Homo sapiens: one gene and its partners. The protein of the gene in region 1 interacts with the protein of each later gene in a pairwise test. Each region holds a gene or a part of one and is shown in the gene's direction. Other genes may lie near its edges. The genes, in order: PDE4DIP, TNIK, SH2D4A, PYGM, NEK2, RSPH1 and CHCHD3.

What was found.
Region 2: the proteins of PDE4DIP (region 1) and TNIK interact in a two-hybrid assay, tested with the Homo sapiens proteins (2 studies listed by BioGRID and IntAct).
Region 3: the proteins of PDE4DIP (region 1) and SH2D4A interact in binary tests that used the Homo sapiens proteins (3 or more experiments, as listed by UniProt).
Region 4: the proteins of PDE4DIP (region 1) and PYGM interact in a two-hybrid assay, tested with the Homo sapiens proteins (one large-scale study listed by BioGRID and IntAct).
Region 5: the proteins of PDE4DIP (region 1) and NEK2 interact in a two-hybrid assay, tested with the Homo sapiens proteins (one large-scale study listed by BioGRID and IntAct).
Region 6: the proteins of PDE4DIP (region 1) and RSPH1 interact in a two-hybrid assay, tested with the Homo sapiens proteins (one large-scale study listed by BioGRID and IntAct).
Region 7: the proteins of PDE4DIP (region 1) and CHCHD3 interact in binary tests that used the Homo sapiens proteins (3 or more experiments, as listed by UniProt).

What each region holds. Positions count from the first base shown.
Region 1 is NC_000001.11:148,850,928-148,854,427, forward strand, and holds part of PDE4DIP (myomegalin), read left to right. Parts: intron 1-3,500. UniProt on the Homo sapiens protein: Functions as an anchor sequestering components of the cAMP-dependent pathway to Golgi and/or centrosomes.
Region 2 is NC_000003.12:171,061,906-171,065,405, reverse strand, and holds part of TNIK (TRAF2 and NCK-interacting protein kinase), read left to right. Parts: intron 1-1,441; coding exon 1,442-1,525; 3' UTR 1,526-3,500. UniProt on the Homo sapiens protein: Serine/threonine kinase that acts as an essential activator of the Wnt signaling pathway. Recruited to promoters of Wnt target genes and required to activate their expression. May act by phosphorylating TCF4/TCF7L2.
Region 3 is NC_000008.11:19,358,693-19,362,192, forward strand, and holds part of SH2D4A (SH2 domain-containing protein 4A), read left to right. Parts: intron 1-2,510; coding exon 2,511-2,622; intron 2,623-3,500. UniProt on the Homo sapiens protein: Inhibits estrogen-induced cell proliferation by competing with PLCG for binding to ESR1, blocking the effect of estrogen on PLCG and repressing estrogen-induced proliferation. May play a role in T-cell development and function.
Region 4 is NC_000011.10:64,749,975-64,753,474, reverse strand, and holds part of PYGM (glycogen phosphorylase, muscle form), read left to right. Parts: intron 1-287; coding exon 288-402; intron 403-970; coding exon 971-1,072; intron 1,073-1,403; coding exon 1,404-1,551; intron 1,552-1,819; coding exon 1,820-1,878; intron 1,879-2,008; coding exon 2,009-2,150; intron 2,151-2,891; coding exon 2,892-3,099; intron 3,100-3,500. UniProt on the Homo sapiens protein: Allosteric enzyme that catalyzes the rate-limiting step in glycogen catabolism, the phosphorolytic cleavage of glycogen to produce glucose-1-phosphate, and plays a central role in maintaining cellular and organismal glucose homeostasis.
Region 5 is NC_000001.11:211,665,622-211,669,121, reverse strand, and holds part of NEK2 (serine/threonine-protein kinase Nek2), read left to right. Parts: coding exon 1-9; intron 10-1,890; coding exon 1,891-2,016; coding exon of another isoform or gene 2,017-2,060; exon of another isoform or gene 2,061-2,705; intron 2,706-3,500. UniProt on the Homo sapiens protein: Protein kinase which is involved in the control of centrosome separation and bipolar spindle formation in mitotic cells and chromatin condensation in meiotic cells.
Region 6 is NC_000021.9:42,479,225-42,482,724, reverse strand, and holds part of RSPH1 (radial spoke head 1 homolog), read left to right. Parts: intron 1-16; coding exon 17-88; intron 89-3,500.
Region 7 is NC_000007.14:132,795,591-132,799,090, reverse strand, and holds part of CHCHD3 (MICOS complex subunit MIC19), read left to right. Parts: intron 1-2,513; coding exon 2,514-2,649; intron 2,650-3,500. UniProt on the Homo sapiens protein: Component of the MICOS complex, a large protein complex of the mitochondrial inner membrane that plays crucial roles in the maintenance of crista junctions, inner membrane architecture, and formation of contact sites to the outer membrane.

The sequences.
Region 1 (3,500 bases):
TTAGCCTAGAGGAATCAGGGACATTTATTTTTCTCTGAATTTATGGTGAGTTAGTAGAGAGTCCTGTTTACAAAGACATAGTTACAACCAGAGATATATGGCCACTGAGGTTAAAGTGGTTAAATGATTTGCTGGCATTCACACAACTAGTATGTGTTGTATGAAGGCCTAGTTAATTCCAGTACCTTTACTTATTATGGTGCTGGTGCTTTGCATGTAACACTTCATATTAGGAAAATGCTTGTTTTCAGAATTCTATTATTGAAACATCTTTGGAAGTTGAATTTCCTGTTTAATATTCAGCACTGCTAGCAACTAATTATCTGAATTTTAAGAAGGAAATTCTGCCTTGGCAACTCCAGTCTACTTTTAAATGGGCCTATACTTGGATTTCGGCTTGGGGAATTTGCCAGAATCAATGCTTTCACTCCTACTTGCTTATTTTCCACACACTAGATCAGTCTGGACCTGACTCCCCCAACCCCCATTTTTTCAGCTACATGCTAAGACTATGTTTAAAATACCTAAAGACTGGGAAGGGGTTGTTTTTGTCTCAGAAAGGATAAGTAACACCTCATGGTGCCGTCCCCATCCTGGGAGGCTCGCCTGACTGTGGCTGAGGGATCATATTTTCAAGGCTAAGTGGAGCATCCATCCATTCAGTGGATGCCCCAGGACACTACTTCTATTGAAATCTACCCCATTTTATAAATAAAATTCCAAACTGGGCTCAGAACATTCCACAAGCTGTCTCTGGCAAAAATTCAAATAGCATTTAAAGTTAGAAGAAAGTCCAGAATACAAGAGATGTCATATTGACCCAAGGTGGCTCTATGTGATTCTATTTTAAAACACTCAAATGCACTGAGGACTTGTTTTCCTCTGCCTCAGAGCATTTTCTGAGTTCTGTGGCCAGCAAGACAAGCATGATCTGAATTTCTTTTTTCTGAACGCTTATGGCTAAAGTGCTAAATTAGTCATAGACTATTTATAATAAATTGTATAATAATACTGTTTTATTTTCATAGCACTTTCACAGCCTGTGATTCATCTTTCCTTAATCTGTCTCATTATCTTCAGTCCTTTTCTGCTTGTTACATTCCACAGAAACGTCTTTCTTTCTTGTCTTTTCCAAGGCCAGTGAGGGAAGAGGTAACTTGCAACTAGTGTCTTCTTATCATGGTCATGGTGGAAAGGGTGGAAAGAAGCAATAACTTCTGACATATAGAAAGCATTCACTGGCCAGGCACAGTGGCTCTCGCCTGTAATCCCAGCACTTTGGGAGGCCAAGGCAGGAGGATCACTTGAGGTCAGGAGTTCGAGACCAGCCTGGCCAACATGTTGAAACCCCATCTCTACTAAAGATACAAAAATTAGTGGGCATGGTGGGGGGTGCCTGTAATCCCAGCTAATCGGGAGACCGAGGAATGAGAATTGCTTGAACCCAGGAAGTGGAGGTTGCAGTGAGCCGAGATCACACCACTGCACTCCAGCCTGGGTGACAGAGCAAGACTTTGTCGGAAAAAAAAAAAAAAAAAAAAAAAAAAAAAAAACTAGAAAGCATTGACTCACAAAGAAAATTGAATAATTTCTAGCATTTCACACAATTTAAGAATGAATTTATTTTCCACTTCATAATGTGGTATATTATCATTCATAATGTAGAATAACATGCTGTGGATTTACAGTGTCTTTTAAATCATTACGCCTAACCCAAAGGATGTAGACTTCCAATTTTTAACTATTATAAATAATACTTGATAAATGTCTAGGTGCATAAAGCATCTTCTTCCACAGCATTATTTTTTGAATGAGAGATGTTCAGAAGTAGAATAACTATGTCAACATTTCCAGTTCTTGAAAGTACATTGCAAATTACTTAAAGTTATAGTCCCATAAGAAAGATATTGCATTCAATTTAAATATCTTTTTCAAGACCTGAATCCCTGTATTGTAAAGGGGGAAACTGAGGCACACTGACATTAAAGTGGCATAACCTAGGTGAATCAATAGCAACATTTCCAACTTTTACCCTTCTCTAGGGTAAAATGCTTCACTGTTGCTGTTAATCTCTATTACTATCCTGAAACGTTTCCTGAAATGATAATAAACAGAAAATTTTAACATAAGAAAGTAAAAGATAGATGTAAATTACATCAAAACTATGTATACCTATTAGGATGTCTATTACAAGGACAGAGAAAAGAGAAAATAGATGCCTTGTTTGGTTAGGGGATTATGGGCAACATCCTTTATATGCTGCTTTTAAACTAAGTCAACATAGGTTTTTATTGCAGGAAGAAGTTCACATTTGTGTCTACCAAATGACAACATGTAAAGTTTGGAATTGAGTTGGTTTTAGGTTTTTCTGTGTATCACTTGGAGGTTTTCTGTGTATAACTTTCTTGTATTACTTGGAGATTTTCAGGTTATTGGCACCACAGGAGCAGCATTATTGCCAGCAGACCCGGGGAGCTGGTTGGAGAGTCATTGCGACTTAATTTACCCTGAGCTAAAATTATTATGAGTGGGCCTTAATATACCAGTTGTTCCCACCTACACATCTAGCCTTGCCTTTGCTGGGATAAATTTGTATACCCTTCAGAGGTTAGATTCAGAAGTACCTCCTTTAGGAATTATTTTTAGAACCTAGATCTGGGTGTAGCCAGAACACGCTCTGCCTACTCTGTTGTAGCATGTAGCTAGTTGGTTAACTTGATATTTTCCATACTCCAAGTTTATCGGCAGAATGAAACGTTTTTGTCTATAAGTCTTCAGCATCTAACATTGCCTCTAGCACTTAGAAGGTCATCTATTAAGAGCTTTCCAGAGAACATTCCCCAAAAGGCCGATGGGAATATCTGTTTGGTGGGTGTCTCCTTATTGTAGAATGGATACAACAGGTTATCAAACTTGACACCATTATACATTCAGATTGTATTTATCATTGTTTAAGAAATATGTGTCTTGTTTCCTCAGTTACGGGAAAAGAAAAAAAAAAGAAATACGCATCCAATTCCTATGATCTAGACTTCTTTAATGCTGGACAGATGATAGTGAATGATCTAAAAACCCTCCCTTCCAGAGACTGACATTCTAGAGGGGTCACTAGGCATGGACATACATCACTGTTATACCTTGACCTGACATAGCCTTAACTCGAATTCACTTCAGTATGCTATCAGCACAGCCATCTTTTGTAGCTCATCTTTCTTCCAGATTTTCCACCCTTAGGATCCTTAATGCTGAAATTATACTTCTTGACCACAGGTCAAGTCCCCCACTTCCTCATTCTTTCTGAATGTTGTTTACTGCGTCATGTATTCCAGTTCCTCAACTCTCTGTATCTTCCAGGCCATCTGCTGTTTATTCACCTCCATACTGAACCTAGACGTCAGAGTCAGCTCTTTGAATCGTGTTCTCAACGCTGCTTTAGAATCTCTAACTGCCTTAACCATCTCCCGGCTTGGTAACCCTTAGTCAATTTTATTTTAAAATCC
Region 2 (3,500 bases), on another chromosome or scaffold:
TGTATATCCCTTTGTCCACCCCAGTTCCCCAAAGGTCAGGTTGGTCTTAGTCCAAACCTGGTGATGTGGGCCTAAACTATATTCAACCCTGGCCCACTACTCTGACCTGATGTGGTCTGGGTGGACAGTAGCTGCAGGTGGCAAAGATGGTTCCAGCCATTTAGATTTCCCAGAAAACAAACATAACCTAGTAAAACTCCAGCTCCCACCCAGTCTCTAAGAATCAAAAAACCAGGAGTGATCTGGGTATGGATACCCACATTCCGATTGAAAACCTACCCCAGCAGGGCTGTTCCAAGCCATGCCACACCCTTAGGAGTAGGCTGGGGCCACACCAGTTGTCTGCAACCCAAGGTTTACAGCCAGGGGCACACAACTTGGAGGGAAGAGCAGCCCTTTCTTTTCTTCATTGTGGTTTTCCATAGGCCCTCTCTGTCCTTCTCCGTTTTGATTCATTGACCCTAAGAGTAGCATTACTTTCATATGCAGCATTAGGTGAATGTCAAGCATTTCCAGAGACCTCCCTAAGAAGTTGTTGTTAGCATTCTTCTGAAGAAGCTGTAGAAATGAAGTAGCAGAGACTTTAGACTAGTGACAAAAGCAACTACCTAACAAAAGTTAGGTATTGACTGACTGAAGGGCTAGGCCATAGCCCAAAATATTACTTTCCTGGGGCAGTGGTTCTTTAACATTAAACATTCAGCTCAAGCAAGCAGTAACCCAAATTTTTCTCACGTTTGTCAGTTGTTTGATAAAATGACTTAACAGACTCAGACCTAATGGACTGTGGTTCTCCTCATTAATGCTATGATCTCATTTGCCCTGGGATATGCCACCATCAGCAGAGAAACCATGCGTTAACTCTTGAAATGCCAAAATGAGTAGGCATTAAATACCTTGCCCTATCTGACCACACTATTTAATGTTTTTATCTTAAATTTAAAAAACTGAAATCTGAAACTGTATGATAGTCAGTAGGCCTAAAACTCCCCCTTGACTTTGAGAATTTGAAGGGATTCCCTTCCATCCTGAAGTCTACTTTCTTGTCATTTAAGGGTGAGAGAAGGGAAGCTTCTGTGCCTTTCTAGAAATTAACAAAGAACCTGTTGGGTCCTAGACCAGAAATCCAGCACGTTATCCTAGCATGAAACTCCCTTTTAAAAAGTGAACACCCAAAGAGATGTTACAAATGAAGATATAGCCCCTTCAGCATCTCTGGAGACCAATACCACAATAAGGAATAATAACAACCTAGGAATAAAGGCAGGAGTTTTTACATAGGATGCACGATATCCAAAGGGACTTTATAAACACAAGCCATTGAGTCTTAAGACCTGACACATGGCAAGGATAGGACATGTGAGAGAAAATGGATGGACGGTTGAAGAAAAGAGGGGAAAAGACCATGCAGTTGAACTAACTTCTTTTTAATTTCAAACAGGTATTTTTTGCATCCGTGCGATCTGGAGGAAGTAGCCAAGTGTTTTTCATGACCCTCAACAGAAATTCCATGATGAACTGGTAACAGAAGAGCACTTGGCACTTATCTTCATGGCGTTATTTCTAATTTAAAAGAACATAACTCATGTGGACTTATGCCAGTCTAGAGGCAGAATCAGAAGGCTTGGTTGAACATATCGCTTTCCCTTTTTCCTCTCCCTCCGCCCCTCCCAGTACAGTCCATCTTTCAATGTTGCAGCCTGGTTGAGAAGGAGAGAAAAAGGTGGCAGGAATTTCCAGGAGATCCCCAAGAATGCTGCCTTGTCTGTGGACAAAGATGGACCATGTGCCCTTCGGAATTAGGGATAGAAACAAATATTGTGTGCTCTTAACGATTAAGCTGTGTTATGGTGGGTTTTCAGGTTTTTACCTTTTTTCTTTACCCCTTTACTCTGCAAGAATGGGGAAAGAATGCATACTGCGAAAATGAGTCTTTTAAATTCTGTCTGCCTACTAGTTTTAAGTATATGGTATGTTGTAAAATTTCCAATGATGAGAGACAGCACAATAAATGTACCTTATCTCCTTAGGCTGAAGGCCATAACTACATAGTGGAGTAATTTAAGAACTCTCTTGCCTTCACCAACCCAAAAGGTTGCTTTTTGATAGCAACTGGCTAATGAATTTTTAAAAAGAGAAGAAAAATACTAGTTTTCCCCTCTTTTGGGAAATAGATTTTAAATGGCTAAACTACTAGCCTTAAAACTACTAGTCTAATAAAATCAACTACCACTTTTGTGAATCTGACAGGCCACATTTTTATATGGCCCTTTACAGAATGGAGTGTGTTGAACAGGATACTAACGCCATTGAGTTGAGCTGGCCTAGCGATGGAGGGACACTCTAACACAACTTTCCCTCAGCTATTATGCAACAGATCAGGGAAAAAGATGGGATGACAGATGGGGTCAGACAGAAAGAGCTTCTGGGAAACAAGCTTACATAGTCTTTTTTAAAATGCACAAAGCCTCCCAGCTAAGAGGTCACTTGGTTTGGGCTTCATTAGGACTGAGACTTTGTTGAGTTCTTTCTGGGACTTGGAGAGTGGATGATATTCAGGCTCTGAACATTCCCAGCGCTCTCCCGAGGGTGCCACTTTCTCAAGATGAAAACTGTGACTGAAAAAATTAATAATAAATGTTTCTGAGCTGCCTGTGTTCTCCCTGTGTGGGTGAGAGAAGGGACTAGACTCCTAAGCCTGCCTCAGATACAAGAGGCATCATTGGCTCCAATTTTAGAGAACTTGAAAGCAAGGCTTTGGACAAAATTTTGAGACCCTAATCACTTTACCTTCCTCCAAATTACCCAACATACGGTAAACAACATTTGTGCAGAAGTATGTATGTATTTAGTTCAGGTTGACTTGTGTCCTTATAAACTCTTACTCAAATGATTTGAACTTTTATGCGACTGGGATTTTTTTTTTCCAAAGCTACAAGCATGGCCGCCTGTGGTATCGAGGTGTTGCAAACAATATCTGTGTTGCGCTTCCTGTTTTAACCTACCTCGTTTTGTTTGTTTTTGTTTCACTGTTCATCACAGCAGTGTTATCTCCAGGAGACATATAGAGAGCTCAACCGGCAATCTCAGGTGCATTTAACATTTTTAAAACGAAACAGTAGTTGACCAAATTTTTCTTCTTAAAAAATTGGAAGTGGGGGGAATCCAATGACAAAAACTAATGTGGCTTGTTTCTGGAGAAAATAATTACTGTAAATGGAACAACAACAACAAAAAAAACTACGATCTTACTGACTTTGCCTAAATACACAAGCAGCTGATGTACTATTAATGAGAACGAAATACACATTAGGAAAATGGAGCCATTTCAATCTAGTGGTTTGGGCAAGATGGGGAAGAGAAGGGGAAACATTCTAGTTTCTGGATTACATTATTATGCCCCTCCTGAAAAGGTGGTTGTCATTTGCATTTATTTAAAGCAGGTAATATGCAGGAATGTAACTGAGGATTATCTTCAGGCAATCAGCAAGATATCCTCC
Region 3 (3,500 bases), on another chromosome or scaffold:
AAACAGAGGCATCCTCCTTTGGGGACACTTGTGAGGCTCTGATGAAGGAATTGGTGGGGAGGCATTCTAAGTGCTTCCATCAACAGGCTGGACAAGAGGCTTTCTGAACGGGCCCAGCGGCTTTCTATATGGGCCCAGCGTGCCCTTGTTTTCTGGTACTGTTAGCTGAACACATTTTCACAGCTCACACCACACATCTGGGTCTCCACACCTTCCACCCTGGGCATCTGGATTAGCATCCAGCCTCGGCCCCTCCGCCCCTCCACTCCAAGCCATCACCTGGATTTCCCCATGCCTGGCTGACAGTCCTGAGTCCTGGTCCAACATGCTTCCAGCAAAACACTGCTGAAAAGGAAATGATGGTCTTCTGAATAGAGAAAGTAAACCATTACAGATTTTGATAAAAGTAAAATTCTCTCAGAGACGCAGGACAAGTTCCTTACGTTTTCTAGCTTTCTTGAATAAATACGGTGGTCAGGGCCGTATATAGATGGGTAATAGCAGATCTCATCTGCTATTACTCTGTGAAACTCGTTAATTTTTCTTCTTTTCCACTGTGCATGTACATAATTACATGCAGATTAAAGGAGTAGATTTATTAAATATAGCTCTGTTAGACATTTGAGTAACATCAACCAAGTACTACATCTGTTATTATTAATATTTTTTCTTAGGTAGAATCATGTCATGTTCCAAATTTCTTGCTTATCCTCAGCAACAATATCCATGATGATCATAGCTTGATGTTTTCACTATATGTTTCCTAACCGTTTAAAAATAAACACGTATGCATGTGGAAGGATGAACAAAGCTCCACTTTGAAGCTTTTTCTGTTTAAGCTTAGAAATTGCTAGCAGCACATGTATCTATCTTGGGCTGGCAAACAGCTTCAATCAAAGGATGGCAAATTTTAACAGTCCTTTCAAACATCAAAGCTGTCCTTTGGATTTTCAAATGTTGGCAAACAAAAGGAGCTTAGCTCTAGGCAGGAAAACAGTGTAAGGAAAAAAAAATGAAAACAGTAAATGCACAGAAGTTTAGTTACATCTGCAGTGAAGCACAATTTATGAATGATGATTACTTGAACTGTGATTTATGACTGCCCAGAGCGATCAGAAACAAGTTTCACAATATTAATGTTTATACTTTACGTTGTGGTGACATAATAGCAAGGAAGTCTTTACATTTCTGTGGGAAAGCACAAAATTAAAAAGCTTGTCACTTGTGATAGAGAGGTGGGCACAGGCAGCCCTTTCTGGCCATTTCAGTTTGTTTTATTGCTTAGCTAACCAAGGCTTTTATTAGTCCACCAAACTGTAAATTCAGTCGTCTTGTGAGCACTCAGAAGGTTGTGTCCAAATAAGCAAAGTACTTTTCAGGTCTAAGTGATTTGGTTTGTTCATTTCTCTTTCGTTTAAAATGATTTCCGTTGAATGCTCTTAATGCCAGAAAACAGTACACTAAAAAATGGTTAAGGTGGTAAATTTTGTTATGTGGAATTTTACCCTAAGTTTTAAAAACCTAATTCTCCTTTTAAAGGAATATTTACATTTTGAAAGTATTTCTCCCTTCTCAAAAGATGCTTTTGAAAAATATTTTTCTGTTTTTTTTTTTTTTTGAAACAAAAAAATACATATTCTGGCAGGGTGTGGTGGCTCATGCCTGTAATCACAGCACTTTGGGAGGCTGAGGCAGTGGATCACTTGAGGTCAGAAGTTCGAGACCAGCCTGGCCAACATGGTGAAACTCCATCTCTTCAAAAAATACAAAAATTACCCAAGTGTGATGGCACTTGCCTGTAATCCCAGCTACTCAGGAGGCTGAGGCAGGAGAATCGCTTGAACCTGGGAGGCAGAGGTTACAGTGAGCCGAGATTATACCACTGTACTCCAGCCTGGGCGAAGGAGTGAGGCTCCATCTTAAAAAAATAATAATGATATATATTTCTTTTGAAACACTTAAAATCATGTAGTAAGTACCACATTTTGGGACACATGACTCGGGGGAGAGATTCAGCTGAGATTGCTCTGGGAATGTGCATTTCTTCTGTGGAGTCTGTCAGCTACTGTAAAGTAGGTTGATGCTAGTTCTATGTAATAGTGTGTTTACATCCTTCAGGGAGTCAGTTTGAAGCAGCTAAGTACTGTGTCTGAGGAAAAGGAATATTTTTTCTTACTATATGTTATACACTGTGCCAGGGACTTCTTAAGTTATCTAATCCTCAATATAACCCTAAGAAATATTTTTTTCTCATCTTTCTTATGGGGAAACAGCCCAAGAGAGGTTCATTTGTTGCTCCTGGAGTTACACACTAGCTAGCAATGGTCAGTCTTACTTCAGGTCTTACTGACTCCAAAGTCCACACTTGATCCTTCCTAGTGGGCCAGAGAGTTAGATAGAAGTCAGCTGTGCCGGGTACCCCGTCCTTCAGGAAACTGCTGGATTTGCTCACCAAGGTTCTTTTTTTGTTTTGTTTTGTTTTTGTTTTTTTTTGTTTTGTTTTTAAACAGAAGAAAGAATCTATGAAGAAAAAACAAGATGAAGAAATAAATCAAATAGAAGAAGAGAGAACGAAGCAGATTTGTAAGAGCTGGAAAGAAGACTCGGAATGGCAGGCATCTCGTGAGTACCCAGAGGTCTCCATAGCACCTTCCAGGCTCTCAGCTGATTCTCTCCCTTAATAATGTGATCAATCTAGAAAGCGCTTAATGTGGGTTGTTGAGAGATATGTTCACAGTAAGTTACCACTCAAATGTTATTACTAACTTATTACTCAAATGCTTACAGGCTACTTTTGAACAGCAGACTCGTTCTCCATTTATTTCTGTATCACCAAAATTATGATGTAATTTATCAAATAGCATGATATATAGCTATGGAAAATAGGTTTTGGAGAGTGTTTAATGATCTTAGACTGTTTATATCTCATTAGCTTGGGGAAGAAAAAACACCATGAAATAGAATGAAAAGCTTCGCTATTTAGAAATGTCTAAGTATCTGAAGGAAAAGAACTGGAAGGTTATAATAACATGTAAACATTAGTTTTCTTGGAAAGGTGAGATTCAAGATTATTTATTTGAATGTTTTTCTTGTAATTTAATATTGTGTTTTGGATTTTTTTTCCCCTAAATTTTTGATAGTGAATACATTTTAACTTTGTAATCAGAAGCACACAGGAATACCAGGCTGGATGTGTTAGCATCCCGCTCCTGCCTGTGACCCAGCCTTGACTCCTATTTGAGTGAGCAGAATGGGTGAGAAAACTCATAGGAGAAGAATAAGCCCATGCAACTGAAGGCAGAGGAGAGGATGCTCCAGAATGCTAGAAGAATTAGGTTTGTGAAAGAATTAGTGTTTCCATCTGACTCAGAGAAATCTGAACTGCTAGATCAACCTGAGGTGGCTTGAGGAAGACAGCAGGTATGGCTATATTTGCAGGATGTTGAGATCCTACATTGATCTGCAGTCCCATTACAACCAATGCCATTTAAATGACAACT
Region 4 (3,500 bases), on another chromosome or scaffold:
ACTCCACGCCTCTGTCACACAGAAGCCCCGCCCTTCACCGACCACTCTCTGGTCTCTGGGCCCTGGCGCCTTTCACAGGTGGCGTCATTCTTACAAGCACAGCAGCCCCTTCCAGTGCCGCCCTGTCCTGAGATGACCTCCTCTTACACACAGCACCCCCAACCTTCCCCAGGTCTGCATTCCCTGCCCCAGGCCCCTTTCAGCAAGACACCAGGGTAGGGGCCCCAGGGCAGAGGCCTTCATTGTACAGGGGTGAGTGGTGACCCTCGTCCAACCTCATCCTGCAGCTTCAAAGACTTCTATGAGCTGGAGCCTCATAAGTTCCAGAATAAGACCAACGGCATCACCCCTCGGCGCTGGCTGGTTCTGTGTAACCCCGGGCTGGCAGAGGTCATTGCTGAGGTGAGAGGCCACCGTAGGGCCAGTAGAGTCAACATGGGTCCCTGCAGGGATCAGCTGGGTATGGTCGTGTAGGTGGTTCACTGCATCAGGGCTCCCAGCTGAAGGCTGAAATCCCTCCTGCACTGTGTTCCCCAAGCCTCGCATCCACCTGGAGGAGGGACACCATCTTAATTGCATGAGGGTGCTCTGTGTGCTAATGGAGGCCCTGGCTGTGGAGGTGAACACAGCAGAGGGAGTCATCCATGGGTCACATCTGAAGTGAGCCTGGAAGGGGGCAGATATCTGGTAGGGAAGGCGCAAGGTCATGCTGGCGTTAGGAAAAGGCCAGGAAGCCAGGAAGGCCTGCTGGGGTCAGGTGGGGTCAGCCATCAGAGCTCAAGGACGGGAGGGGAGGAAGGTGCATGGATGCCCCGTGCCCCATCTGGGCGGCTGGAGGAGGAGGGGCTGGGAGGGCCCCCAGAGCAGCCTGCTGGGTGAAGGGGGCTTGGCTGACCTGGAAATGGCCCCTTCTGTGTTGGGAGGAGGGAGGACATGGGGATGGGCTTGGCTGAGAGCCGTCTTCCCATAGCGCATCGGGGAGGACTTCATCTCTGACCTGGACCAGCTGCGCAAACTGCTCTCCTTTGTGGATGATGAAGCTTTCATTCGGGATGTGGCCAAAGTGAAGCAGGTGGGGAGAGATGCAATGTGGGACAGCTGTGCTGTGTGGAGAGCGCTGGAGGGGCCAGATGTCTGGGTCAGGCGTGGCAAATAGAGCTCATCTCTCCTGCCAGCCCAGGCCGTTGGTGGAAGTTGCCTGGAGTCTGTGGTGGGAAGGCATCATCTGACCTCACATGAACAGTGCTGACATTGATTAGCAATGTCTGCCCTGGTACAGGAGTGGACAGAAGTAGCCAGTGAGCCTCCTGGTAGCCATCCTCCTGGGGCTGACTGGAGTGTGGACTGTAGGATTTCCTGAGGCTGTGGCCTGTTGGTGAGCCCTTCCCCGTCTCTGCCTCCAGGAAAACAAGTTGAAGTTTGCTGCCTACCTAGAGAGGGAATACAAAGTCCACATCAACCCCAACTCACTCTTCGACATCCAGGTGAAGCGGATTCACGAATATAAACGACAGCTCCTCAACTGCCTCCATGTCATCACCCTGTACAACCGTGAGTGGCAGCCACTCTACCCTGTCTCTCAGTGCTCCCCCGTGTTCCTGCGGCATAGTACATATTGCCCAACCAACATCTCCTTTGGACTTGGGACTACTCTTGGGACATGGAATTATCCCCATTTCACAGATGGGCAAACTGAGGCTAAGAGAGCATAGCAAGTGATTGTTCGAGTCAGGCCTACGGTGTCCCAGCCCAGCCTCTGTCAGGAGCTACTACCCAGAGGGAAAGGTAGGCCCACTGGATCCCTCTCGTTTCTCCACAGGCATCAAGAGGGAGCCCAATAAGTTTTTTGTGCCTCGGACTGTGATGATTGGAGGGAAGGTGAGAAGCCAGGCTCCAGCCCTGGGCTCCCGTCCTTTGATATATCCAGGTTGAGGTCAGCCCAGCTGAGTTGCAGGATAGGGGGTGGGGGGCCAGGCAGTAGAGCTGACCCCAGACTTTGTCCCCTCAGGCTGCACCTGGGTACCACATGGCCAAGATGATCATCAGACTCGTCACAGCCATCGGGGATGTGGTCAACCATGACCCGGCAGTGGGTGACCGCCTCCGTGTCATCTTCCTGGAGAACTACCGAGTCTCACTGGCCGAGAAAGGTGGGTGCTGCCAACAGGGACCCTAGGGAGGCTCTGACTAGTTCAGTCTCAGGAAGAGGTATCAGTCGTCTCTTCCTGGGATACTTGTACTTGAAAGAAGAATCTGGAGAGGGCAATGCTTAAACCATGAGGAGGCCAGGCGCAGTGGCCCATGCCTGTAATCCCAGCACTTTGGGAGGCCAAGGTGGGTGGATCACCTGAGGTCAGGAGTTCGAGACCAGCCTGGCCAACATGGTGAAACCCCGTCTCTACTAAAAATACAAAAATTAGCTGGGCGTGATGGCAGGTGCCTATAATCCCAGCTACTTGGGAGGCTGAAGCAGGAGAATCACTTGAACCTGGGAGGCGGAGGTTGCAGTGAGCCGAGATCACGCCATTGCACTTCAGCCTGGGCAACAAAAGCAAAACTCCGTCTCAAAAAACAAGAGGAAACAAAACAAAGCAAAAACCCCATGAGGATGCCCTCTAATGGTGGAATTTCAGGCAGTACAGGGTGAAATTACCTTCAAATCTGCAACAGAGGTGGGGAAATCCAGGTTGGACCTAGATGGTCAAGAATCAACAAGAGGTAGAGGGCAGTGGGGGTGCGGTGTGAGAGGGAGGCTTGGCTGGTGAAGACTGGGAGTTTGGGGTGGGGCGACTCTGAGTCCAGCTATGCCTGGGGCCAGCCTAATCTGAGAGTCCCCAGCTGGTGTGAGGGTCTTCCCTGAGTTGACTTGTCCCCCTGCTGCCACCCCACAGTGATCCCAGCTGCAGACCTCTCTGAGCAGATCTCCACTGCGGGCACTGAAGCCTCAGGCACCGGCAACATGAAGTTCATGCTCAACGGGGCTCTGACCATTGGCACCATGGACGGGGCCAATGTGGAGATGGCAGAAGAGGCGGGAGAGGAAAACTTCTTCATCTTTGGCATGCGGGTGGAGGATGTGGATAAGCTTGACCAAAGAGGGTATGGGGGTCAGGGTTCACGGGCAAAAGACACCCAGGTGTGGCTGCTGGAGAGTGGTGCTGGGAGCAAGCGGCACGTCTGGAAAGACTGGTCCAGGCCCAGCAAGGTCTTGGTCATGGCCAGCAGGATTCTGGGAAACTTTAGAGGGCGCTTACAGCAAATAAGGTTAATGAAATTGGAAAAGAAAGAAGTAATATAGAACTGAAGGAAAAGGAAGAGAATATTATATCAACCCTAAGAGATAATATTGTTTGGGAAATGGAAGTAAAAAAATCCTTGCTCTACGCCGGGTGCGGTGGCTCACACCTGTAATCCCAGCACTTTGGGAGGCCAAGGCGGGCGGATCACAAGGTCAAGAGATCCAGACCATCCTGGCTAACACGGTGAAACCCCATCTCTAC
Region 5 (3,500 bases), about 63 Mb from region 1:
GATTGGAGCGTAAGTCTGAATGGGGGTCAAAGCAAAGGAGAACTACCAAGTGGGTTATTTTGATGTGTCTGAATATCTCTTTGAGCAGAATATTTTATACATACAGATCTTATTAGAAGCTTTTGAAAAATACTTGAGAAACCAAAATATGTATTTTAGACTTTTTAATAATCAGGCTTGCTGGCACCTTCATGTTGGACATCTTTCTCTGAGATCAGTTGCTAGTTATATATTATTGGGCCTTAACTGTGATGGCCCTAATACGATAGCCTTGTATTTTACTCTAGAGTTACTTTTTTCTTTTTCGTCTCTACTGTGAATACCCTAATGTTTTCCCACTGTAAAGGAAGGTCTTAAAATTGCTGCTTTCCATAATAAAAAACCATGACTTTTGTCTTTTGAAATGGCCACTCCAACAGAATTCCAGGTCTAAAACCCTACAGTATGTAGATGAGATATGTTCAGGCAATTCTTTTCTTTTTTTTTAACTTTTTATTTTTGAAAATGAGATGGGGTCTCACTATATTACCCAGGCTGGTCTTGAACTCCTGAGCTCAAGTGATCCTCCCATCTTACCTCCCAAAGTGCTGGGATTATAGGTGTGACCTACCACACCTGGTCTGTTCAGGCAGTTCAATAGAGAATCTAGATACAAGATATTTTAAGTCTATAAATAATACTCTGGTGGGTATTAACATTGACTTATGAGTATTAACTGATTAGATGCTAATTTAGTTTTGATATTGAAAGTGTGTCTACTCCACCAAGATGAGAGCTACTCGCAAGCATTTAGGGTTATGCAAGGTAGCTACAGAGTGAGGTTCTTCATTTTAACATCAGGAGACGAGAGATGGGGTCGTATTTGTGACCTGTCACCCTCATGACTCACCTGATTTTACTTCTGCAGCTTTATGCCCAATCCAGGCTTTAAATAATGAAATATTGTATAGTCCTGTGAGATATGCTTACTGTATAGGTACAACCTATACTTACTTGGAAACCTCTGTAAAAAATAAGAAAGCTTTTTCTTATAACTTTCCCCAGTGTTTCATAATTTCTTTTCTTTTTTTTTTTTGAGATGGAATTTCACTCTTGTTGCCCAGGCTGAAGTGCAGTGGCACCATCTTGGTTCATTGCAACCTCTACCTCCCGGGTTCAAGCAATTCTCCTGCCTCAGCCTCCTGAGTAGCTGGGATTACAGGCGCCTGCCACCATGCCTGGCTAATTTTTGATTTTTTAGTAGAGATGGGGTTTTGCCATGTTGACCTGGCTGGTCTTGAACTCCTGACATCAGGTGATCCACCTGCCTCGGCCTCCCAAAGTGTTGGGATTACAGGCGTGAGCCACTGTGACCAGCCATAATTTCATATAGCAACTGAAATCTGAATACTTTCTGAATTTGGGGCCATGAATAAATAGTAACATTTGTTATTAATACTAATCCTATGAACTACCACCTAACTGAATTGTGTTTTTTTTCTTTTGTTTGGGTGTGGTCATTCAACCAGAAGAAGGAGATTTTTGTACTGTGAGGCCAGATCATGCCCTGAAAATTAGCTGTTGCTTATCTTCAGTGAAGAGCAGAGATAGCTTTAGTTTTTTGTTTTCCCAAATGAGTTACTCCCACAAAAGATGACCAAAGGTTGAAGCTAACTTTGTATTTGTTTAAACAAGTCCTTTCAAGAAAATCTAAGATAACATACAGCCTACTAAAACACTCAATTAAAAACTAACATAATCAGGTTGACTGAGGCATAGTGAGAATCCTTTCCCCAAACATTGCTTATCAGTATCAGGCATGCTAGTAGTGATAAGATTGCCAAATGTAAATTGTTTTTTAGTCAAGGTCAGTTGTTAATTTTTTTTTCTTTGTCCATTCTCTTTTTAAAGAGAAAGAACAGGAGCTTTGTGTTCGTGAGAGACTAGCAGAGGACAAACTGGCTAGAGCAGAAAATCTGTTGAAGAACTACAGCTTGCTAAAGGAACGGAAGTTCCTGTCTCTGGCAAGTAATCCAGGTATGAGAATCAACTTGGTCAACAGAAGCTGGTGCTACAAATGAAGAAATGTGCACCAGTGTTGCTCCCAAAGTGGCTTAGGTAGCCCTTTTCATTTACAAATCTCAAATTTTAAGATGGATTTCATTGAATATATGCATTTCAATGGAAACAAAATTCTGTTATAGCAATGATTTATTTCCTGGGTTCATAGACCTGAGGCAATGAGTCATAGAATTTCATGTTTGATTTTCTTTACCTTATCAAACTACATGTTTAGTAATTGATACTTATTTTTATTATCATTATTTATTTTTTTATTTTTTTTGAGATGGAGTCTCACTCTGTAGCCCAGGCTGGAGTGCAGTGGCACAATCTCGGCTCACTGCAAGCTCTGCCTCCCGGGTTCACGCCATTCTTCTGCCTCAGCCTCCCAAGTAGCTGGGACTACAGACACCCGCCACCAAGCCCGGCTAATTTTTGTATTTTTAGTAGAGACGGGGTTTCACCGTGTTAGCCAGGATGGTCTCGATTTCCTGACCTCGTGATCCGCCTGCCTCGGCCTCCCAATGTGCTGGGATTACAGGCATGAGACACCGTGCCCAGCCGATACTTATTTTTAAAAATTAGGGCATTTACAAAACTATTGTATGTTTCAGATTTCAGAGAGATAAACTGCATTTCAAGTAAAAATAAACATTTTAATATTGCCATGCCTCATTTTTCATAGAAAGCATGGCTTAAAAGGCATGATAAGCCACCTGCAGAATAGGCTGTCACGTTTGGATCTTTGCTAACACCCTTTCAAGTTGAAAGACATATTTGTTGAAATTTGATTGTTTAATATCTACATATGTTCTCTGCATTTCCTTCTTTATTTAAAGTCTGGTATATAGATATTCAGCTTTCTCAGGGCCCTGCCTTTGTGTGGCATTGTCCCTTCACTCTGCCGCACTGAGATGTGGTTATCGTATATACCAGTGAACCATTGTCTAACATTCTCCATTTTATAGAAACCCTCAATCTAATTTAATCGACTCTTTAAGATTATGTAAAATGCAAACTGTGAAACATCTTTTTGCTTGATTTATGACACAAACTAACTGTTAAAAGTTGTTGGTTTCAAAAATCGAGCATCTGAATTTTCAATAAAATTTAGAGTTTTTATAACTCCCTTATTCCATGTAGGACAGCATATATGAAAGCTATTATTCCCATCTTTAATAAATTGAGATGTAGTGTGATCAATTTAGTGAGCATTGGCAGCATTTTGTAAATGGAACAGACAAAAAACCCTACTTAAGTTAGATTGATGATCACAATAACTTTGTAGTGAATAAGTGATGGAAAGAAATGAAACTACTGATAGAAGTAAATGAAACAAGGATTATATGAAACTTTGGCTTCATCTCTGTTAAAATACCTTCTTTTTTCCCAATATTGCAGTCTACCATTTCAATATTATAAAAATATTTATTCTGGCTTTTCATAGATTCCACACTGTC
Region 6 (3,500 bases), on another chromosome or scaffold:
TTCTCTTTGCTCGTAGCCTGTTGGCCCTGGAAAGTATGTATTTGATGTTGGGTGTGAACAACATGGTGAATATCGTTTAACAGATATGGTAAGTTGCGGAGCATGTAGGGTTTTGTTACATTAACAGGGAAGTAGCTGCTCAAAAATATTGATCCTGCAAGGTTGGAGGTGATTCGCCTAAAAGTTATGCCAACTCTTAGGCACTTTCACATTTTCATTTTCCTTATCTGCATGTGTTAGTACAGAACTAAATTGCCAGAAGCAAACAATATCATTTCCCATTTATTGCAGAACTCTAGACTTTGTTGATAGATACCGTTTTTGTTGATAGAAACTAATCCTGGCAGGGCACAATGGCTCACGCCTGTAATCCCAGCACTTTGGGAGGCCGAAGCGGTGGATTGCTTTAGGTCAGGAGTTTGAGACCAGACTGGCCAACGTGATGAATCCCTGTCTCCGCTAAAAATACAAAAATTAGCTGGGCATGGTGGCGCATGCCTGTAATCCCAGCTACTCAGGAGGCTGAGGCAGGAGAATCGCTTAAACCTGGGCGGCGGAGTTTGCAGTGAGCCAAGATCACGCCACTGCACTCCAGCCTGGGCGACAGAGTGAGACTCTGTCTCAAAAACAAACAAACAAACAACCAATAAATAAAAAACTAATCCTGAGTGGGAGGGTTCTAGACAGTGTTAGGTCCTGCAAGTGAAAACTGAATCTGTAACTGGTGTTGCCACAGTTTGTCCAGTGACTGTTAGCTTGTCCGTTGTGCAGCATGCTCCTCTGAACGTGCCGTTGGTAAGTCTTTCTCTTGTTTTTTCCTTTCCAATATCTAACATTAATATTAACACTACATTGACATTCCCTGGTTAATAGTAAAGCTAGTCAGCTAATATTGCCGTTATAAGGCATCGAGATGCGTATGTGTGTTGAGGTGGGAATATATGTGTTCCTATTCCTCTCATTATTAATGTCTGATCAATCCCTCTAGATAATTAGCAATTCAGCAACATTTCCTGACCCTGGTACTGGTTTTGATCCTTTTGACTTATTTGTTTAGATGAGGTCATTCTCACTGTAAGAAGTTTTGAGTTTTAAGGAGGAGTGTGGAATCACGCTTTTGTTTGTTTTTTGGTCTCTGAAGTTGTTGAGGTGTCCCCTCCTAGTGAGTTAAGAATATATTATCGTACACAAACTCTCCCATGTCTGCATACTTTCTTTCTGAAGAAAGCCGGGGAACGGCTTGTTTGGGTCTACCATCACATCAATGCCCTTTCAACCTGGGTTAGTCCTTTTTGTGCTGCTATAAAGGAATTCCTGAAGCTGGGTAGATTATAAAGAAGAGAGGTTTATTTGGTTCACAGTTCTGCAGGCTGTACAAGAAGCATGGCACCCGCAACTGCCTGGCCTCTGGTGAGGTCTCAGGAAGCTTCCACTCATGATGGAAGGTGAAGGGGAGCTGGTACCATAGCTCAAAAGAGGAGGAAAAGAGGGGAGGAGGTGCCAGGTATATATATATATATTTTTAACAACCAGTTCTTGTGTGAACTAATAGAGCAAGAACTCACTCATCACCACAGGGAAGGCACCAAACCATTCATGAGGGATCTGCCCCCGTGACCCAAACACCTCCCACCAGGCCCCACCTCCAACCCCGGGGGTCACATTTCAACATGCGATTTGAAGGGGACAAACACCCAAACTATGTCACAACCTGAGCCAAGTCACCTCGTTTTGTTTTTTTGTTGCTGTGTCCCTCGTCAAGCCCTTGGCATCACCCAGAGGCCCTGCTTTAAACCGACTCCTCGTCACCTTGGGCTCAGGTGTGAGGCTGTGGAAAGCTATCCTTGGTCACAGGAGGTAGAAGCCACACTGTGGGGAGCTTGGAAGGCTGCGGGAGATCCTGTGCATGAGGGCCTGTCCCGCACCTGCTCTGTGCCGCCCACTGCTGTCTCTACCTAATGCTCCATCCTTTCACCCCAAGGGCCCTGGCCTTGAATCCTAAGTCTAAACTCATCACTAATTTTTCAATTCAATGCTCTTCAATGCTCTCCAGACAGGTTTTTTTTTTTTTTTTTTTTTTTTTTGAGATGGAGTTTCGCTCTTGTTGCCCAGGCTGGAGTGCAATGGCGTGATCTCGGCTCAACGCAAACTCCACCTCCCGGGTTCAAGCGATTCTCCTGTCTCAGCCTCCCGAGTAGCTGGGATTACAGGCATGTGCCACCACGCCCAGCTAATTTTGTATTTTTAGTAGAGACGGGGTTTCTCCATATTGGTCAGGCTGGTCTCAAACTTTCGACCTCAGATGATCCACTGCCTCAGCCTCCCAAAGTGGTGGGACTATAGGCGTAAGCCACTGCGCCCAGCCCTCCAGACAGTTTTTTAACTTTTCTCATTTTTCTTCCTAGAGTTTGTTAGATTCTAAAACCAAAGGGAGTCTTTGAATCTTTATCCCTTAACCTCCCATGATCAAGTGACTGTCCGTGCTCCGTTGCTGCTTCCCAAGTGGCCACAGTCTGGACATCCCCGGGGCTCTCGGCCCTGACCTCAGCCACCCTCTTTTCCTGATTCCCGCTCCTGTGATATTCTACTTTCTGCACATCACTCTGGCCATGGTTATTTAGTTTCCCCAAACAGCCCATGGTTGCTCATGGTCCACCTTCTTGGCTGACCAGAATCCTGTGTGGCCTCACAGTGATCTGTCTTCCTTGCCTCTTCTCCTGCTTTGCTCCAGCTAAAAGGAACCACTGGCTAGGGGCAGGTCCCTAGAAAACCAGAAAATGAAATGGCCAAAATGCTTGATTTTGTTGCTAAGTAAGAGGCCCTACCTCCTCTGAGCACGAATTCTTCATGGACCGCAGGGTGCTCTAGTCTGGGTGGAAGGCAGCTTCCTGTAAGTCACCTGCATCTAACAAAACGTAGAGGAATTTGACATACTGTCCTCCCCCGAGGTTCCACTTCATTTATGTGTGTGTGTGTGTGTGTGTGTGTGTGTGTGTGTAACCTCCTACACACATAGTCAGAAGCCTAAGAAAGACAGTCGGCTTTAGGATTTGATTGTGACAGGGAGGTATTTAGTATTTTGCTGGGATTTCCATGGGGTTGGACACCTCTCATCTGTTCCCTGAAGGAACCTATTGGTTAAATTGATATCTTGTCAGCACTGGTAATAACTGTTTAGGGTTACTGGTGATTGAGCAAGTTTTTACATTTGTGTAGTGATAAAAATAAAGCCCATCTTATTAAGTGCTTTGCAGCTTTAGACTCTACTGGAAAAAGTTCCTAGAAGTCAGTATTTCAGGATGATGAGAAGAAGGTAGAAGGAGCATCAGTAACATCTAAGAGAGAATTACTGATATAAGCCCCAAGTCCTGTTGCTGTTTAGGAAAAACCACCCATGAAATAATGCAGCAACAACCTGAGGGCTTTGTGGAAGGCCTCCCACTGTGCTGTGGGGATGGATTAGGATGGTGGTGGAACAGAAGGGCCTCCGTGTTCTCTCT
Region 7 (3,500 bases), on another chromosome or scaffold:
GATTGAAGTGTGTACAAAAAGAATTTCAGAGGATGACTGCACACACACACACACACACACACACACACACACACACACACACAGAACAGATCACCAAACAGGAAATCAAGAGCCCTGGAAGTGAGTAGTATTGATTTGTGGTGATAAAAGTATATTTTGACACATTTCAAATCATAAATAACGCATGGACTTTAACTTGCATGACTAATAGCTCAACCCAGGATACATGCTTATCTACAACTTAAACTACCTCTTTCTAAGGAGTCCATAACATGAGGTGAATTATCCCATCGTGAGTAGACTTTTTAAAGGAAAAAATAAACTGTCTTCTTTATGACATGCAGTGTGTGGATGCTCATTTTTACAGTCTTTTCCCGTATGTTAATGAGGAAGGGCTGCATATCTGGTCAGGGTTGTTCTAGCCTTCCCTCCTCACCTCCTTCCCCCTGCTTTTAAATCTGAGACACATTGGAGACACGATCAGTTGTCAACACTAGGATAGAATGTAACCTTGCTTTCCTATGAGCTATTAGTCATTAGTCATGTATTTGCTAGGTTCAGCTGATCTGATGCTTAATCATATTTTATTCGATATTTATCTAGATGCAGGTCTTGCTATAATTAGTCACTTAGTGGTATCTGTGCCTATACTCTTTGAAGCACGGCTGATTCCTTTTAAATCCTGATGTTCGTGGTAAAGGATTAGGGAAATCTGTGTCCAGAAAAATTCACAGACATCTGAAGTTTGAAATCTTAAAGCATGGAAACTCCTGGGATTCTATTTAATTCTGTTCTTAGGTATTTGACAAAGCAGTAAGGTAATGAATGAAAAAGTAAAAGTGATGTTATAGAAAAATTGTTGAAACATTTTTTTTTCTCTGTATGTCTGTGTTCTTTAGAGGATAGTAGGAAGTCAGGGAACCACCAACATGCTTTGCATTTCTATTCTAGTAAAATATATATTAGCTTAGTGTACTGGATAAAAATAATGAGACAAATCATCACCCAGGCGTTTCCTTATTGATGAGAAATATTCCCCCTGTGTTCTCTAGGGGTTTTGTTTGAACCCATTAAATTTAAAATAATGTGATTTCAAGATTACTATGGAAATAACAAATTTAAATTTCAAAAATAGAAGTGATAAGACTGGAAGCTTCTTGTATTAAGACTAATTTGAAAAAACACGAATTTCAAGATTAAAAGTAGTAATATTGTGCTTTTTTTCTCTGTATGTATTTAATCCTTGCAGTCCAAACTTCCCTGCCGTATTAATCAGAATATTTTACCTTCATTCGTATAACTCATTTGGTTCATTATCATTTTTCAAGCATATATTATAAGGTTTTTGGAAACATTTACATTTGGTCTCACATATTCACAGAAGCAATCTGACTAAAATCTGAGATTTGTAAGTATAAGTAGCAAAATTTTAACCCAGGGGACTTTAAAATGTTTTCTTTGCACCGATTTGTATTCATTCAGTAAATGTATTACATGACTTCTGTAGGGTTCCGATGTCTAATAGCTGAGGTAACAAAGAAAATAAGTCACAGTCCTTGGAATTTACATTCTAGTAAATGTAGGTTGCTAAATTGTATTAGACTATGGTGTAGTCAGTGTCACATGCATGGCAAGAAAAGTGAATACGGGACCAATGGGGTCACCATAAAGGGAATGATAGACTGTACCAGGGTTGGGGGGTGGAGAGCTAATGAAAGCTGACACTTGAGTGAAGTATCAAAGGATGAGTAGGTTTTTTCCAGATATAGAGGCATAGGTGGGAGTTTGGGCGTAGAGCATTTCCAGAAGCAAGAGCAGCATGAGCTTAGACTTGAAGAGAAGTGTAAGAACGAAACCCTGAATTGGGTTTGTCCAGGCTTCAGCTGTGTGCAGGGTTGGGGGGTGAAGGCCACAGAGTAGGCAGGAACCTGGTCAAGAAGGACCAGCCAGCTGGCCTTGTATTTTGTGTAGAAAGTGCTGGGAAAAGAGACCATCTTCGATTTCCTATGGGAAAGAACCCTCTGGAAGGTGTGTGCAGGCAGGAGTAGAGGGTGTCAAAGCTGAGAGACCAGCTGGGAGGTTGTTTCTTGAATTCAGGATGTGGCTCACTTGGAAGCAATGTAACGACAGTGAGTGTGGAGCAGGAGGACCAGGCCGTAGGGATCTCCAACTTTGTGACCAAGTGGATATGGGAATGGAAGAGAGAACTTAGGGCTTCCAAGTTTCTGGCATGTTGATATGGTTTCGGTTTGGAAGGGATGGTTATATTGTCCAGACTAACTCACAGTAGTGTCAATTAGTGGAACTAATTTCTTAGAATTTATTTACCCTTTGTCATTTTTATCATGGGAAAAATTTAGCTATCTTTGAAGTTTAAGGAAAATTCTTTCTCTTAAACCTTTTTCTACATTTGCAACATCTGTGTCTTACTGTGCGTTTTATGTGTTCTTTAACCTTGATTTTTATTCTGAATGAAGACCATTGGTCTCAGCGGTCCCTGTGTTTGTTTTCAGGCGATATGAGTCTCATCCAGTCTGTGCTGATCTGCAGGCCAAAATTCTTCAGTGTTACCGTGAGAACACCCACCAGACCCTCAAATGCTCCGCTCTGGCCACCCAGTATATGCACTGTGTCAATCATGCCAAACAGGTAGGTGTGCCAGCCAGGCCACTGGGGGCACTGGGCAAATTGAAAACTGGATGACCTGGGGCAGTGGTAAGGACTAAATGGGCCACTGTGTGTGAAAAAGCTTTCTAAGCCCTAGTCATCATCATCAAGAATTACTGTAATGAGTTGATTAGGGCATAACTTGTGTCCGATCATTGTCAAAGAGCCCATATCTTCCTTATGTACAACTCATTTACTTGCAGAAAAAAGGATTCTACTACAATTATACTTTTTTCCACTTGCCCTGAACTTTTGTCTTCTAATAATAATGTTCCCAAGGTCATTCCTCATACTTTTAGGCCAATATTTAGAGCTAGCGAAGAGGATACAGATTAAGAGCTGGCACCTTTGGGCCCATAAGCCGTAGGTAGGCAGAGGGCCAGGTTAAAAAAAAAACAAAACACCACCGTTCAGTCACTGTCCAACGCTTCCACCAGTTGATAGAGTTCACTTAGTTGGACAGGGAAAGGGAAACCAGAGATAGCATTTTAAAAAGAATTTCCACTGCTTTTATAGACCATAGCCATATTCTTCTCTTGACCCTTCATATCAGAACAATATGATGTTCACAGGACGTGCATTTTCTCTAATTTATGTACTTTAGAAAGCTAATGATAAACCCTGAAGCAAATTATCAATTCTGGCAGGTCACATAATTGCCTATCATTTAACCAATTTAACAGTTGGATATGGTTGTTCTGAGAGGCAGAAATTGTTGGAAACGTTGATTCCTTCTGCTGACAAACTCCATAGATTTGACCTTCTAACCCAACTAAATCTAGTGTTTAAGTTACACAGCATGCCTTTCTGCAGTCTAATTTGATGTAGTTATA